4 linked regions of the Homo sapiens genome follow. The protein of the gene in region 4 purifies or fractionates together with the protein of the main gene of each other region. This does not show direct contact. Each region holds a gene or a part of one and is shown on either strand. Other genes may lie near its edges.

Region 1 (3,204 bases), on a different chromosome or scaffold from region 4:
ATTCCTAACGGATTCTAGTTTGTCCTTAAAATGAAATTAGGTGTATTTATAGAGAATTCTGGTAACGCATGTAGTATTAGGTGTTTAGGTTTAGCATAATAAAGGCTAATGCAATACAGAGTTCCAATAACAGTATGTTTTAATCTAATAGGGCAATATTCTAAATAACAAATATCAGAAATGTTAAGCAATTCATTTATTTTTTTTGAGACAGGGTCTCATTCTGTCACCCAGGCTGGAGTTGCAGTGGCATGATTTCAGCTCACTGCAACCTCTGCCTCCTGAGTTCAAGTAATTCTCATGCCTCAGCCTCCCAAGTAGCTGGGACTACAAGCATCAAACAGCATGCCCGGCTAATTTTTTGCTATTTTTTGCAGAGATGGGGTTTCGCCATGTTGTCCAGGCTGGTCTTGAACTTCTGGGTTCAAGCAGTCCACCCACCTTGGCCTCCCAAAGTGGTGGGATTACAAGCATGAGCCACCGTGCCTGGCCTGCAATTCTTTTTTTTTTTTTTTTTGAGATGGAGTTTCGCTCTTGTTGCCCAGGCTGGAGTGCAATGGCGCGATCTCAGCTCACCGCAACCTCCGCCTCCCGGGTTCAAGCGATTCTCCTGCCTCAGCCTCCTGAGTAGCTGGGATTACAGGCATGTGCCACCACACTGGGCTAATTTTTTGTATTTTTAGTACAGATGAGGTTTCTCCATGTTGGTCAGGCTGGTCTCAAACTCCCGACCTCAGACGATCCGCCTGCCTCAGCCTCCCAAAGTGCTGGGATTACAGGCACGAGCCACCGCACCCAGGCCCCTGCAATTCATTTTTTACGTTACATAAATGTTTTGTTGCTTCAACAGAAGAACAGATGCCAGGGTGCTCTTTTAAAAAATTTATCTATGTAAACACATCTTAATACTAATTTGAGTTACTACTTTTATTCTTTATTGTCACATTTTCCAAGTTTTGCGCATTCAAACTTGGCAAACATCATGGAGATTTGTACAAACATACATATACATATATACACACATATTTATAGCCCCAGCTTCCTCATTAAACCTTGTGCTCAGGCTCCTGTTAAAAGAGGTAAAATGGTGAGAAGATAAAAATCAGGGAAAACATGAATAAATGCTGACTGACAAATCTTGTTGTTATGAATTTGTAAGGCAGACATTTTAAAGCAAAATCCATTACCTTGCTAAAATTTCCACTAAGCTACAGCTTCAGATATTTACAAGAAAAATAAATATCTTTTAACAGACTTCAATGTGGTTTAACAGCAAGCTAGCTGAGGAGTTGTATTTTGTTGTTATTTCAGGTAACTTTTTATTAAGAAACAGTTAATATTTCAGTGATTACAATTTCAGGTGTTCAAAACTCAAGAAGGGTCATCATTATACTCTGAAGCAGAATTCTTCAGGTACTCATCTTTAAATTACTACCCAAATCTATCACAGTCACATTCAGGCTTTCAATTTTTAAAAACATTTAATGTTTGGTAACTAAAGGGTAGATGCGATTAGTGTACTCTAGGTCGTTTGATTTTATTTTTTTCTGTAGGAGCTTTCCTCTTTTGTGATAATCCAGTCCCAAGTTCCTTATTATTCTGAATAAATGAAATAGCTTCTGGTAGACAGTAATTTTCTACATGAGGAGGTGATTCCTATAAAAGGAAAAATAAGTGATTTTTTAAAATGATTTCAAACATTTACGTGATCTGGTAATAGATTTTTTCTTTAAATCTCAGACCTCTCAGGGATGAATCTGACAAACTTAAAGGAAAACGCATATTCATTCCTAGGTTCCAGCAAATTAAACAAAATGGACCCTGTGGGACAAAGTCTCACCTTTTATCAAAGAAATACGTGTATGGTTCAGGTAGAGTGGGACTAGCTCAGATCTTACAAACATTTCATATCGGTGTTTTTAATCCCCATTTTTGAGATAAAATAAAAAAGGTTAAATGAAAACAACCAATGTCACATAACTAGCAGGTAGCAAAGCCAAATTTCATAACTGATCTGACTCCAAAACCCTTGCATTTTCCCCCCACAACCATTTCCCAACATAGAAATGGATCTTTTCCTCCTTATTATAAGTGTAATAAAACTTAATTTTCTAGCAATATGGCAGACTGGGCAACCTGAAAATGAATCACCACAAAATACCAAGTAAGTGCCTTTTGATTCAATTCTTCCATGGATAACAGCTACAAATTCTGACCAAAATATATTAAAAGCAACCATAGAGCCTGGAGAATAAACGAACCAAGCAAATGGGGGGCTGGGGACGCAAACACAGTGTATGAAGTAAACTGCCTGTTAAACAACACAGTACTCTTTGGAGGAGCAAAGGAACAATAGAACCTAGAGTTTCTTTTTTAGGGGGAGATAAGGGTCTTGCTGTGTTGCCCAGGCTGGTGGCTGGTCTCAAAAATGACACATTGAATACAAGGGAACAATTCAAATGACCATCACTGATTTCTCAACAGAAACAATGGAGGCCAGCAGACAGTGAAGTCTTTAATAGAAGAAAAAAACCTGTCAATCTATAATTCTGTATCCTGCAAAACTGTCCTTCAACAATGAAGGTAGAATAGACATTTCATACAACAGAAAGCTAGAATTGATCCCCAATCAACCTGCACTCCAAACTAAAGTTAGTTCTTCAGGCTGAAGGAAAATGTTATCAGATGGAAACTCAGATCTTCAGGGAAAACTGACACTCAAACTGGTATACATGAGGGTAATTATAAAATACCATTTTTTATTTTAGTTTCCTCAAAATGCACAGAATTGTTAAAAGCAAAACCTATTTAAAGTAAAATCTTATTTGGGGCTATAAGATGTAGATGTAAAATATATGACAACTACTGCATAAAGCAGAGGTCAGCACACTTTCTGTAAAGGCTCAGACAGAAACATTTTAGATTTTGTGGGATAGATGATTTGTGCTGAAACTACTTAACTCTGCCATTATAGTGCAAAAGCAGCCATAGAAAATACATAAATGAATGAGTATGGCTGTTTTCCAACAAACCTTTATTTATAAAATAGGCAGTGGGCCAGGTTTGGCCAGGTGGCTATAGTTTACTGACCCCTGGTATAAAGGACAGGGGAAGCAAATGAACCAACTTGGATGCAAGAGATCTACCTTTTTTCATTTTTTTTTTTTTTTTTTTTGAGACAGAGTTTCGCTCTTGTCACCTAGG
Region 2 (3,500 bases), on a different chromosome or scaffold from region 4:
GCTCTGACCCAAACGGTGCCCCTGGGGCACAAGAGGGTGAGTGCTGGGCAGCAGGAACAGGGTAGGGCTAGAGGAACCTGGTCACTGGCTGGGTAACAGGCTCTGGGGCGCCCCACAAAATGTCTCTAAGCTGCTGCACTGGGCTTCCACACAAGCACGGTCCTCTGTCTGGCAAAACCCACTCCAACACCCACCCCATGCGCTCGAGAGCCCTGTGTGCCTTCCAGTGTGAGGAGAGGGAGTGCAGGCTGAGAGGACGGGAGGGGCCTCGCACCAGAGCCACAGGGCGGTACCCCACATGGGGGCCAAGAGGGAAGTCACAGCAGAGGACCCAACTCAGGGGTCACAGGACTTTCCCCATCAGCTTCAGCCTCATAGCCACTATGAGCAGAACCAGCAGGACCCCAGGGCACCCCCACCCTGGGGGGCCTACAATCAGCAGCTGGGCCCCCACGGGCCCCAAGACCACCAGCACCCCCCGCCCCCAGCCCAGAGCCTGAACATCTGGCTTATTTCACAGAGGGAAGCTGAGGCTGCAGGGGATCCCCTCCCAGAGATCACAGAGCCAGGGAGGGGCAGGACTCCCCACCACTCCCAGGGCAACTACCATGGCAGAGATGGGAGGCCCCCTTCCTAACACTGGGCACCGGGCTGAGAGCTGCAAGCCCTGGCCAGCCCCCGGCCCAGCCCCACTCGCGGGCACACATGGGCTCAGGGGAGCTGCATCGGCACCAGCCTCTGGTGCCGGTTATGCACCCCAGGACCCACCACTGCCCACTGGGCCTCTGGGGTGTCCAAGTATCCCCACCCTTCAGTCTCTCCGGGAGCTTCCTCCACACCAGGCCAGCCTGGTGCCCACCCCAGCCCAGGCAGCTCCCCTCCACCCACACCCTCCAGGAAGCTCTGCACTGCCTCTGTCCAGCCCACTGTTCTGGGGAAGGAAAGGAGAACCCTGAAGACCAGACAGCCATCCCTGTAGCACCTAGCCCTCCCCCTGCCACCGTGGGGCCAGCCCAGGGCTGTGTGCTGGAGCTCCTCAAGCACCAGCCAAAGACAGGCAGGGGCACTACCCTTGCCCTGCCCTTGGCCCAGTAGAGGGGCTGGGGAGAGGCAGGGCCAAGGCCTCTGGCCCGGCAGAGTGCTGAGGCAGCAGACACTGGATCTCCTGGCTGGGGAGCAGGGCCCAGAGGGGAGGGGGCCGCGCAGGCCTGCCCTCACCACCCACACACAGCAGCCTCCCCAGGAGGTCAAGTGCCCTTGGAGAGCCAGCCCCCGCCTCAGCATCCCTGGGCCCCTGCACAGGCTCCTGCGTGGTCTCAAAGTGTCCTTGCTTAGTGGGCCTGGGGCCAGTCATGGGCAGAGGCACAGAGGGGAGTGGGGCCCTTCAAGGTCACTGGGCCTAGTGTAGGGCAACATTCCCCCTGCCCCCTGTACGCCAGATCTAGCCTCCCACAGCATACAGCAGCACTGGGCCTGCCACCTGGGACGGCCGCAAGCCTTTGTTCCTGCCCCAAGCCCCCTCCTCACCCCACCCCACCCAGGCCTGACCTTGCGGATGCGGCCACTTCGCGTGCCGGCGAATACCACAGTGCGGCCCCGATAGTCATAGGCAGCCACGGCGGTCAGGCCATCATCCTTGTCCACGAACAGGGGCGTCCCCTCAATGGTGACTGTGCCCCCCAGGGGCTGGTTGAAGTCCTGCCCGCAGAAGTCGTCATCGATCTGCAGGGGCTGTGGGAAGGGGCAGGGTGAGAGCCACTCCCCGGGCACCTTCTCCCGGAGGACTGGGCCTCCCTGGGCAGGGCTGGGAGTGCAGTTGTCTTTCTAGAGAGGTTGGGGGTAGCCCCCAGAGGAGAGGTGCAGACAGAGAGGGTTTAAGACAGGAGGGAGCAGATCACACCTGAAAGGCAGAGGGCGGGCTCCCAGCTAAGAGCACGAGAAAGCAATCAATAGCTTGAGGTTCCGGAGCAGCTGGGGGCCAGTGTGGAGGGGGCGCTGCTCCACCGCCAGGCCTAAGGAGAGGGCAGGGCAGGCAGGGAAGGGATGTGGGGAGAAGTGGGGCAGATGGTCCTTGTCTGCAGAGGGTTCATTGGCAGGGGCCAGGCTGCTCAGGAGGAAGGAGCAGGGGAGGCTGGGCCAGGGCTAGGCCACATGGAATGAACAGGTGGGAGGGGGCAGTGGGGACTGTCCCCAGGGATGAAAGAGCAGGCCCCAGCCTTGGGGCAGGGCACAAAGAGAGAGTGTGGTGGGGCTTCACCCAGGCTCTGCCCCTACAAGCCTCAGTGTCTCCATCTGTATGGTGCAGAGAAAACACGTTCCTTGAAAAGCCAAGGGGAGGGTGGACAACCGCATCTGCCAAGCACACATGGGCCCTGCCTCACACAGGCAGTGAGCGTGAGACGGAAGGACTGAGGGGCCCTTGCAGTCCCACTCTGCCCTGAGGACAAAACCAGCAACACCCTCAGGTCAGACATGGGAGACTACAGCCAGAGAGGGCGAGGCCTTCCCCTGCGATGGCCAGCGACCCCCAGCAGCAAGCCCAGAAGGCCTGGCCTCGGGGGTCCCAGGTCTGGGCCGAGTCCCAGCCCCTTCACTTTCCACCCTAAGCAAGGCCCGTGCCCTCTGAGCCTGCCCAGGAGTGTGAACAAGACACTCCCTGAAAGGCAGCGAGATAGAGGCCCCACCCCAGCTGTGCCTTCTGATGGGTGCTGGGGGCTGTGGCTCCCTGCAGTCAGGGTCACTTTCTCTGCAAGTTGTTAACTGTGGCCTGCACCAGGACACCATCAGCTCCCATTGCTGGGCAAAAGCAGAGGCCCAGCGGGCAGGTGCCACCAGGGTCATGTGGGGGACACAAGCGCTCCATGGAAATGGTGTCTGGGCTCACCTGATAGGCTCTGGCACCAGCCTCTCACTTGCTGTGTGACCCAGGGCAAGTTACCCCACCTCTCTGATCCTATAACCTCATTTGTAGGATGGGGACAAGATGGAGCAGGCAAGCACCAGGTGTAGGACCAGGCATGTGGCTGGCACTCTGTCCAGTGTCCCACAGGGGCTGTGGACTATGCCAGCAGGGCCTCGTCACCCCATCTTCTGAGGCACAAGACAGCATCATGGCTGGGAGCAGCCTTTGGGGCTAGCACCCTGGGTCCAAACCCACTCTCTGGGGGATGGAAAAGGGCAGCCCCACCTAGCTGAGCCATGGGGATGGCCAAGCCAAAAGCCAGGCCAGGCACACAGCAGGCACCACTGGGCGTGCATCTGACACCGATGCCGTCGTCCCTGGAGGGGATGGGGCCGCGGGAGGAGGGGCGCCCCTGCCCAACTCACCGAGTTGATGCAGCCCAGCTCCTTGTTGAGCAGCCACGGCAGGGAGAGCTTGCCCTCACCACGGTAGCAGGACTGGATGCGCTCCTTAATCTTCTCCTTGATGGCCCTGAGCGTGAACAGGCACAGTGCTGACTCCTTTGGTGGCTTCACGCGGTTCTTCTGGCCCTGGGCGA
Region 3 (3,500 bases), on a different chromosome or scaffold from region 4:
GATTACCTTGTTCTCCTTCACCATCTCTTCCATTATCTATCATCCTTCTTCAGATGTATTTATTTATCCATCCACCTACTCATCCCTCCATTGTAATCGTCCGTCCATCTACTCATCCACTCATCCGTCCATCCAGGCAACCAGGCAGTGCTGAAGTGCACAGACTGCCACTAACTACTATTGTGACCTTGGACCAGTCACTTCCTTTTATCTGTGCCTCTTATCAGTGTCCCCACATGTACAATGGGGGGATATCAGTAGGCCCCCCTCGGGAAGAGTGTAAGAGATGTGAGAATAAAATGTGGGTCTTCGTGGAAACAGTGATGATTATGGTTGTCACTGTTGCTATTATCATCATTGACATTCCCACCGGGAATTTCTGCCAGGGAAGCCGGTGCCCAGAGAGGAACGGTGACTGGCCGGGGTCCCACCAGAGCCAGGGTCAGACTCCTCCATCACAGTTTGGGTGGTGAGTGGCACAGCCTGTGAACAGGCCTTCCTGGGACACAGAGCTCAGGCCCCCGTCCGTCCACTGTCACGCCCAGGTGGTGGTGTCCCGCGTGGCCCGAGTGTGCAAGAACGACGTGGGAGGCTCCCCCCGCGTGCTGGAGAAGCAGTGGACGTCCTTCCTGAAGGCGCGGCTCAACTGCTCTGTACCCGGAGACTCCCATTTCTACTTCAACGTGCTGCAGGCTGTCACGGGCGTGGTCAGCCTCGGGGGCCGGCCCGTGGTCCTGGCCGTTTTTTCCACGCCCAGCAACAGGTCAGCGCCCACCAATGGGAGCAAACTGGGAGCATTTGGTGGGCATGGGTAGAGAGGGCCTGTATTCACTCCTCAGGTATGCCCTGGGTGCTAGGTTGGGCACCACTGGATTAGACCTCTGAGAGGCCTCGGCCCCAGGCTGGGGTGGGACAAGCTGACACTGACCCTCTAAGTCCCTTTGGTCAGAACTGGGCCAAAGATATCCTCATCCTCTGCCTTTGGGGAGAGGAGCAGGGAGGGCTTCCTGGAGGAGGGGACATTGGAGCTGGACTTTGGGTGTGAGATGGAGGAAGAGGGAAGGGTGTTCAAAGTTGGAGAAACAGCATGTGCAAAGGTCCTGAGGCTTCAGTGAGTTCAGTATACTTAAGTAATCGTGAGAGAGTCTGTGTGGGAAGGGAACTAGGGGAGAATGCACAACAGGAAAGCAGGGAACTGGTAGGATGGATCAGGCAAGGCTTTGTGGGCTGCAGGCAGAAACTTGGACTTTTTCCCTGAGAGCACTGGGGAGCCATGGAAGAGTGAAGAGCAAGAGGGATGAGATCAGGTTTGCATTTTTTGTTTGTTTGTTTGTTTGTTTGGTTTGGTTTTTTTTTTGAGACAGTTTCACTCTTGTTGCCCAGGCTGGAGTGCAGTGGCGCGATCTCGGCTCACCACAACCTCTGCCTCCTGGGTTCAAGCAATTCTCCTGCCTCAGCCTCCCTAGTAGCTGGGATTACAGGCGTGCGCCACCACACCCAGCTTATTTTGTATTTTTAGTAGAGACGGGGTTTCTCCATTTTGGTCAGGCTGGACTCAAACTCCTGACCTCGTGATCCACCCGCCTCAGCCTCCCAAAGTGTTGGGATTACAGGCGTCAGCCACCGCACCCGGCCAAGGTTTGCATTTTTAAAAAGCCTGCTTGTGGACTGGGCACGGTGGCTTCGCCTGTAATCCCAGCACTTTGGGAGGCTGAGGAGGGCAGATCACTTGAGGTCAGGAGTTCGAAACCAGCCTGGCCAACATGGTGAAACCCCATCTCTACTAAAAATACAAAAATTAGCTGGGTGTGGTGGTGGGCACCTGTAATTCCAGCTACTCGGGAGACTGAGGCAGGAGAATTGCTTGAACCTGGGAGGTGTAGGTTACAGTGACCTGAGATCACGTCACTGCACTCCAGCCTGGGCGACAGAGCAAGACTCGGTCTCCAAAAAAAAAAAAAAAAGCCTGCTGGGGAGTGGGCTCTAACAGTGACACTGGGCAGGCAGGACATCCAGTTAAACAGGGATGGGGGCCTGGACAGGGGTGGCCTCGTAGACCCTGAACTGTGGCCCAATCTGAGATGTTATTCAGGAGGAGTGGCTGCATTCGACAGATGCGGGAGGGACAGGGGACATCTCTGGCCTAGGAAGACTGAAGATTCACTGGCTCCTGCAGACAGAGGCTCCTGCACGCACTTGTCCGAGATGGGGCCTCCCACCGGGCTCACCAAACTCTTTCATCCCAACCCCTCAGCATCCCTGGCTCGGCTGTCTGCGCCTTTGACCTGACACAGGTGGCAGCTGTGTTTGAAGGCCGCTTCCGAGAGCAGAAGTCCCCCGAGTCCATCTGGACGCCGGTGCCGGAGGATCAGGTGCCTCGACCCCGGTGAGAACCCCCTCCATCCTGAGTCACATGCCCGGATGAGGTCCTGATCCCCAGGGCCGAGGGCTGGGGCTTCCGGGTGGTTATTTAGCTGATGCTGAGTTCAGCTGTACCCGTTATACAGTTGGGAAAAACTGAGGCCTGGTGTGGTGGCTCACGCCTGTAATCCTAGCCCTTTGGGAGGCGGAGGTGGGCAGATCACCTGAGGTCGAGGGTTTGAGACCAGCCCGACCAACATGGCGAAACCCTGTCTCTACTAAAAATACAAAAATTAGCCGGGCGTGATGGCACGTGCCTGTAATCCCAGCCACTCGGGTGGCTGAAGCAGGAGAATCGCTTGAACCCAGGAGGTGGAGGTTGCAGTGAGCCAAAGCACTCCAGCCTGGGCGACAGATTGAGACTCTGTCTCAAAAACAAAACAAACAAAAAACCTGAGGGTCGTTGGGCAAAGCAATGGGTACCTCTGGTGAATCAGGCCCCTTTATGAGAACCTTTACGTTCGTCCTGACCACACCCTTGTCACCCCCAGGCCCGGGTGCTGCGCAGCCCCCGGGATGCAGTACAATGCCTCCAGCGCCTTGCCGGATGACATCCTCAACTTTGTCAAGACCCACCCTCTGATGGACGAGGCGGTGCCCTCGCTGGGCCATGCGCCCTGGATCCTGCGGACCCTGATGAGGTCGGTCCTGGAGAGGCAGGGCATGGCGAGGGGAGACAGGATGGGGTAGATGGAGGGTGAGAGGATCCAGATGCTCAACACAGATGAGCCCATGGCTTCCGGCGCTGCCCAGAGAGCTGGAGACACAGAGAGACAGAGAGGGAAAGATGGAGAGACACTAGGAAAGAGAGAACAAAGAGAGAGACAGAGGGATCAAGAGGTGACAGATGGGGCTGGGCACGGTGGCTCATGCTTGTAATCCCAGCACTTTGGGAGGCCGAGGCTGCCAGATCACCTAAGGCCAGGAATTCGAGACCACCCTGGCCAACATGGAGAAACCTCGTCTCTACTTAAAATACAAAAATTGGCCGGGCATGGTGGCTCACGCCTGTAATCCCAGCACTTTGGGAGGCCGAGGCAGGCGGATCACGAGGCCAGGAGATGGAGACCATCTTGGTT
Region 4 (4,207 bases):
AGTTATTGAACAGCTGTCCCAGACAAGGAAGGCAGGGTGCTTACCCCTACAGGAAATAAAAGGAACTAAATTCAACTCAGCACCCACCCTCAAAAGACTGCATCAAATGAGAAGAAATTGCTGCTGTTAACCAGGCAGACATCCCTAAAATCTGGAAGAGAGTTACAAAGTGCAGAGAGGGATCAGGTGAAGATTGTGCTGGGCTTAGGGTGGGGCATCAAAGCTGGGTAAATGGTGGCCATCTTCAGAAGGCACTAGTTCACCTTGTTTGGTTGTAGCTTAGATAGGTAACTTTCAACATTTTAACAAATAGCATGGTACTAGCACCTGCCAGCCGGAACTGACACCGGCCTGTAGTCTCAGCTACTGGGGAGGCTGAGGTAGTAGAATCGCTTGAGCCCAGTAGTTTTGCATCTAGCCTGGGCAATATAGCGAGACCACCCCCCACCACAAGTAAAATAAAATCATAAAGTCAAAACACCTGATACTGGCCCCACTGGAGCAGAATCTGAAGGCCCCTGTGGCACCAAGTATTAACACTTTAGTTGAGAGATTATAGGGAGGTGAGGGTTAGGGGATTCCTCGTAGTGTCTTCAATTTTAACAGTTGGAGCTGGTGCTTATAGCTCAATGCCCGGCCCTTCTGAAGGAAGGGAAAAAGGCTGGAGACGAGGTTCACCTTGTTTTGTGGAGGGCTCGAATGCCACGCTCATGAGGGCGTCCTTCACTCAGGAAGGAATGGGAGCCGTCCATCCCAAGGACCTCCCTCAATAAACATCCCTTCCATTCATAACTAGCCAATGCCATTTTAGGAGCTCCGAATGCCTGGAGGGGATACTGTTTTGGTTAAAGATACCATACGTGTCTGCCCTCTGGCAGCTGGAAGTGTAGAAGAAATTGGGGAAGGGGCGCCATGACCCCACAGCATCACAGAATTGGAAAGCTGGCGGGATGGGGGTGGGGAGGACCTTAGTTAACGCCGCGCCCCCCTCTCAGAGAGGGTTAGTGACTCGGCCAAGTTCACGCAGCCGGGTCCAGACAGAGACAAACCTCCCTTCCCCGTGGTAGCTGCAGAAGAGGAAGGGAACTCTTGCAAATCAGAGGCCAAGATAGCAGTGGAGTGGCACGGGGGCGGAAAGCGCATCCAAAGGGGAGAAAAATGCTGTATTCCTAGGAGTGGGATTGTCTTTTATTTTTATTTTTATTTTTATTTTTTTATTGTTGTTGGCACGGTTTCGGAGGACTTATTCTTGCTGAGTTAACTCCCTCTCCCACTCTTTTTTTTGGCCATGCCTGGGGAGGATTCGCGGTGTGGGGGGAAGGCGCGCCCCTGCGGCTTCTGAGGCTCATCTTCCCGGAGCGGAAGGAAGGAATCAGGCACCTCCTCCCAGCCGCCCCCACGGGCTCTGGTCCGCCCCAAGGCTTCCCTGAGCTCGCCAGGCCCCAGGGCTGTGTGGGGCGGGCTCCCGGCCAGGCGCGGTCGGGACGCCCGCCGGTCCCCAGGTTCGGGGCAGCGCGCAGCGCGGGTCCGCGGCGGCTTATCCTTTTTCGCGACCCGGCCTGGCAGCGCCGCGCTCCGCTTGGAGGGCACTCGGCGGCAGAGTTCCGCGCTGGGAGGGGTGAGGGGACCAGCCGCCTCCTCTGCGGACTCAGATCGAGCAGGAGAGAGTGGGCGCGGAGCTGGGGCCAGCGCAGGGCCGTGGGCTCCTCTCTGGGCACGCATCCTTTACGCCACGGGCTTTCAGGGGCTGAGGGGCCTCGAACCTTGCCAATCACCAGTGCTGTGCGCCCCGCTTGCTTTGGGGTGCGTTAAACGTCAGGAGAGAGCTGCTCAGATGGGGTCACCAGACGCCTTCTCCCCCTTTTCTCGGAGCCCGCGGGTTGCGCGATAAGCCAACCCAGCCGGACGCTGCGCTCCTATAAATAGAGCGCGTGTGCCCGCTTCGCGCTCTCCGGGCTGCACGAGGGACGAGAAAGTTGTGCGCAGGGACTGGGGGCGGGCGGCCAGGCAGGAGAGGACCCCGCCGGACCAGCCGCCCTGAACGCTGCGCCCGGCGCCCTGGACCTGATCCTGCGAATCCGCGCTTTCGGTGCGAGGGACCTGGCTAGCCGCTGCCTCCCTCCCTACCTCTGGGTGACACCAGGTTTGGGGGATTTTTTTGACCAGGCGAAAGTGGGAGTCGCTGGCGTCCTGGCCATGAACACAGCCTCGCGTTCTTCTCAGCCTGGGAAGGACCTTCTGCCTCTGTAACTCGTCCCTGCCGCAAGCCAGACAGGACTGGCACCCGCGCCGCTGGGCACCCGCCACCCTTGTGGCTTCTCTTTGAGTCCCCTCTTTTTGTTCCTGCTCCGTGGTTTAGCTGGTGGTGCTTGAGTTTGGGGTGAGAATTTATTATTATTATTATTTTTTGCCTTGAGGTGTGAATGTGAGGGTTTGATGACTTTCAGATGTCTAGGAACCAGAGTGGGTGCAGGGGCCCCAGGCAGGGCTGATTCTTGGGCGGAGGAGAGTAGGGTAAAGGGTGCTGCATGAGCTCCTTAAAGGACAAAGGTAACAGAGCCAGCGAGAGAGCTCGAGGGGAGACTTTGACTTCAAGCCACAGAATTGGTGGAAGTGTGCGCGCCGCCGCCGCCGTCGCTCCTGCAGCGCTGTCGACCTAGCCGCTAGCATCTTCCCGAGCACCGGGATCCCGGGGTAGGAGGCGACGCGGGCGAGCACCAGCGCCAGCCGGCTGCGGCTGCCCACACGGCTCACCATGGGCTCCGGGCGCCGGGCGCTGTCCGCGGTGCCGGCCGTGCTGCTGGTCCTCACGCTGCCGGGGCTGCCCGTCTGGGCACAGAACGACACGGAGCCCATCGTGCTGGAGGGCAAGTGTCTGGTGGTGTGCGACTCGAACCCGGCCACGGACTCCAAGGGCTCCTCTTCCTCCCCGCTGGGGATATCGGTCCGGGCGGCCAACTCCAAGGTCGCCTTCTCGGCGGTGCGGAGCACCAACCACGAGCCATCCGAGATGAGCAACAAGACGCGCATCATTTACTTCGATCAGGTCAGACCCGGGGGGAAGCGAGCACCTAGGGGGTGGGCGGTCTCCAGGCACCTCAGCACGAGGCTGCCTGCCCAGGCTAAGCTGGTCCGATTGGGAAATGGGGAATCATGTAAAGCACTCGCCTTCCCAAATATGCCTGGGTCTGAAACTTCTACCGTCCCTCTTCCTACCCCTCTCACCAGCCCCGGCTCCCATTTCTTCCGGGCCCCTAAAAGAGGCTGCTGCGGCGGCGGGGGAGAGGCTTGGGAGCCCAGAGCCCGGCAGCGAGAGCTCAGGGCAAGTTTCGAGCAACAGGTCGGCGGGAGCCGAAGGGCACCTGGTCCCTGGACGTCGTTATCTCTTGGCCAGATCTTGGTGCCCTTGCTCAGACTCCTCTGCGGGTGCCGCTGAGGCTGCTCCCTGGGTACCTTTGCGGAACAGGATAAATGTTTGATTTGTTTCTCCCAGGTAGAGAAGCTTCTCTCCCAAGAGAGCCCCGGGCTTCCACACTCTTCAGAGATCGGGCAGGTGGCCGCGGAGGGCGGGGGCAGAGCCGGGGGTCAGATCTCGCCTGCAGGTTCCACTGTTCGTGTGCCAGGCACCGCTGGCACTGCCGCTGCCTCGGAGTAGGCAGCAAGCCCTTCTCCGGTACTTAGAGAAAAGTTGCGGAGGAGGGGAGGAAAAGGAATTTGGCAACTGCGCTGAGCTCCTGTAGGAAAGCGCTTGGGAGCCAGTTCTCCCTTCCCGGGCTCATGTCCTTTCAGAGAATTGCAAATAGCTGGGGAAAGACAGACTTTGAGGTTGATGAGAGTAGGGGAAGAGCTGACGGAAGCTGTAGCTGCTGTTTAGCGACCTGGTGCTCCGTGTTTGGCTTGATGAGAAACCCCAGGATATCAGCTTACCTTTAGCAAGGGGTCTTAAGGGAGAAAACTGTCCTCAGAGTTTTTAATTTCAGCCCCAACAGTATCCAGAGTCTTTTTAAATTCCAAATTCACAGTTCACAGTTGTATGCAAAGCTGCAATGTGCAGGGGGCACAGGTTAAGTGGTGTTGCAGGATGTGCCAGGGAAAGCACGAGGTGACATCTGTATTCCTTGCTTAATTTTTCCTAACTAATGCACTCTCCAGCTGGCCAAAGACAGAGAATGCCTCTCTAGGGGCTTAGTATTTGATAGACATAATT

The links. Proteins that work in one complex are often made in the same cells at the same time.
Region 1: the proteins of CBLN4 (region 4) and TOPBP1 purify together in Homo sapiens (affinity purification with mass spectrometry; 2 studies listed by BioGRID and IntAct, with this or other methods). This does not show direct contact.
Region 2: the proteins of CBLN4 (region 4) and PLXNA1 purify together in Homo sapiens (affinity purification with mass spectrometry; one large-scale study listed by BioGRID and IntAct). This does not show direct contact.
Region 3: the proteins of CBLN4 (region 4) and SEMA6B purify together in Homo sapiens (affinity purification with mass spectrometry; one large-scale study listed by BioGRID and IntAct). This does not show direct contact.

Annotation. Positions count from the first base shown.
Region 1 is NC_000003.12:133,599,738-133,602,941, forward strand, and holds the end of TOPBP1 (DNA topoisomerase 2-binding protein 1), read right to left. Parts: intron 1,657-3,204; coding exon 1,513-1,656; 3' UTR 501-1,512; downstream 1-500. UniProt on the Homo sapiens protein: Scaffold protein that acts as a key protein-protein adapter in DNA replication and DNA repair. Composed of multiple BRCT domains, which specifically recognize and bind phosphorylated proteins, bringing proteins together into functional combinations.
Region 2 is NC_000003.12:126,989,615-126,993,114, reverse strand, and holds part of PLXNA1 (plexin-A1 precursor), read right to left. Parts: coding exon 3,328-3,500; intron 1,732-3,327; coding exon 1,549-1,731; intron 1-1,548. UniProt on the Homo sapiens protein: Coreceptor for SEMA3A, SEMA3C, SEMA3F and SEMA6D. Necessary for signaling by class 3 semaphorins and subsequent remodeling of the cytoskeleton. Plays a role in axon guidance, invasive growth and cell migration.
Region 3 is NC_000019.10:4,549,685-4,553,184, reverse strand, and holds part of SEMA6B (semaphorin-6B precursor), read left to right. Parts: intron 1-545; coding exon 546-763; intron 764-2,254; coding exon 2,255-2,386; intron 2,387-2,912; coding exon 2,913-3,062; intron 3,063-3,500. UniProt on the Homo sapiens protein: Functions as a cell surface repellent for mossy fibers of developing neurons in the hippocampus where it plays a role in axon guidance.
Region 4 is NC_000020.11:56,002,720-56,006,926, reverse strand, and holds the start of CBLN4 (cerebellin-4 precursor), read left to right. Parts: upstream 1-1,407; 5' UTR 1,408-2,755; coding exon 2,756-3,046; intron 3,047-4,207. UniProt on the Homo sapiens protein: Acts as a synaptic organizer in specific subsets of neurons in the brain. Essential for the formation and maintenance of inhibitory GABAergic synapses.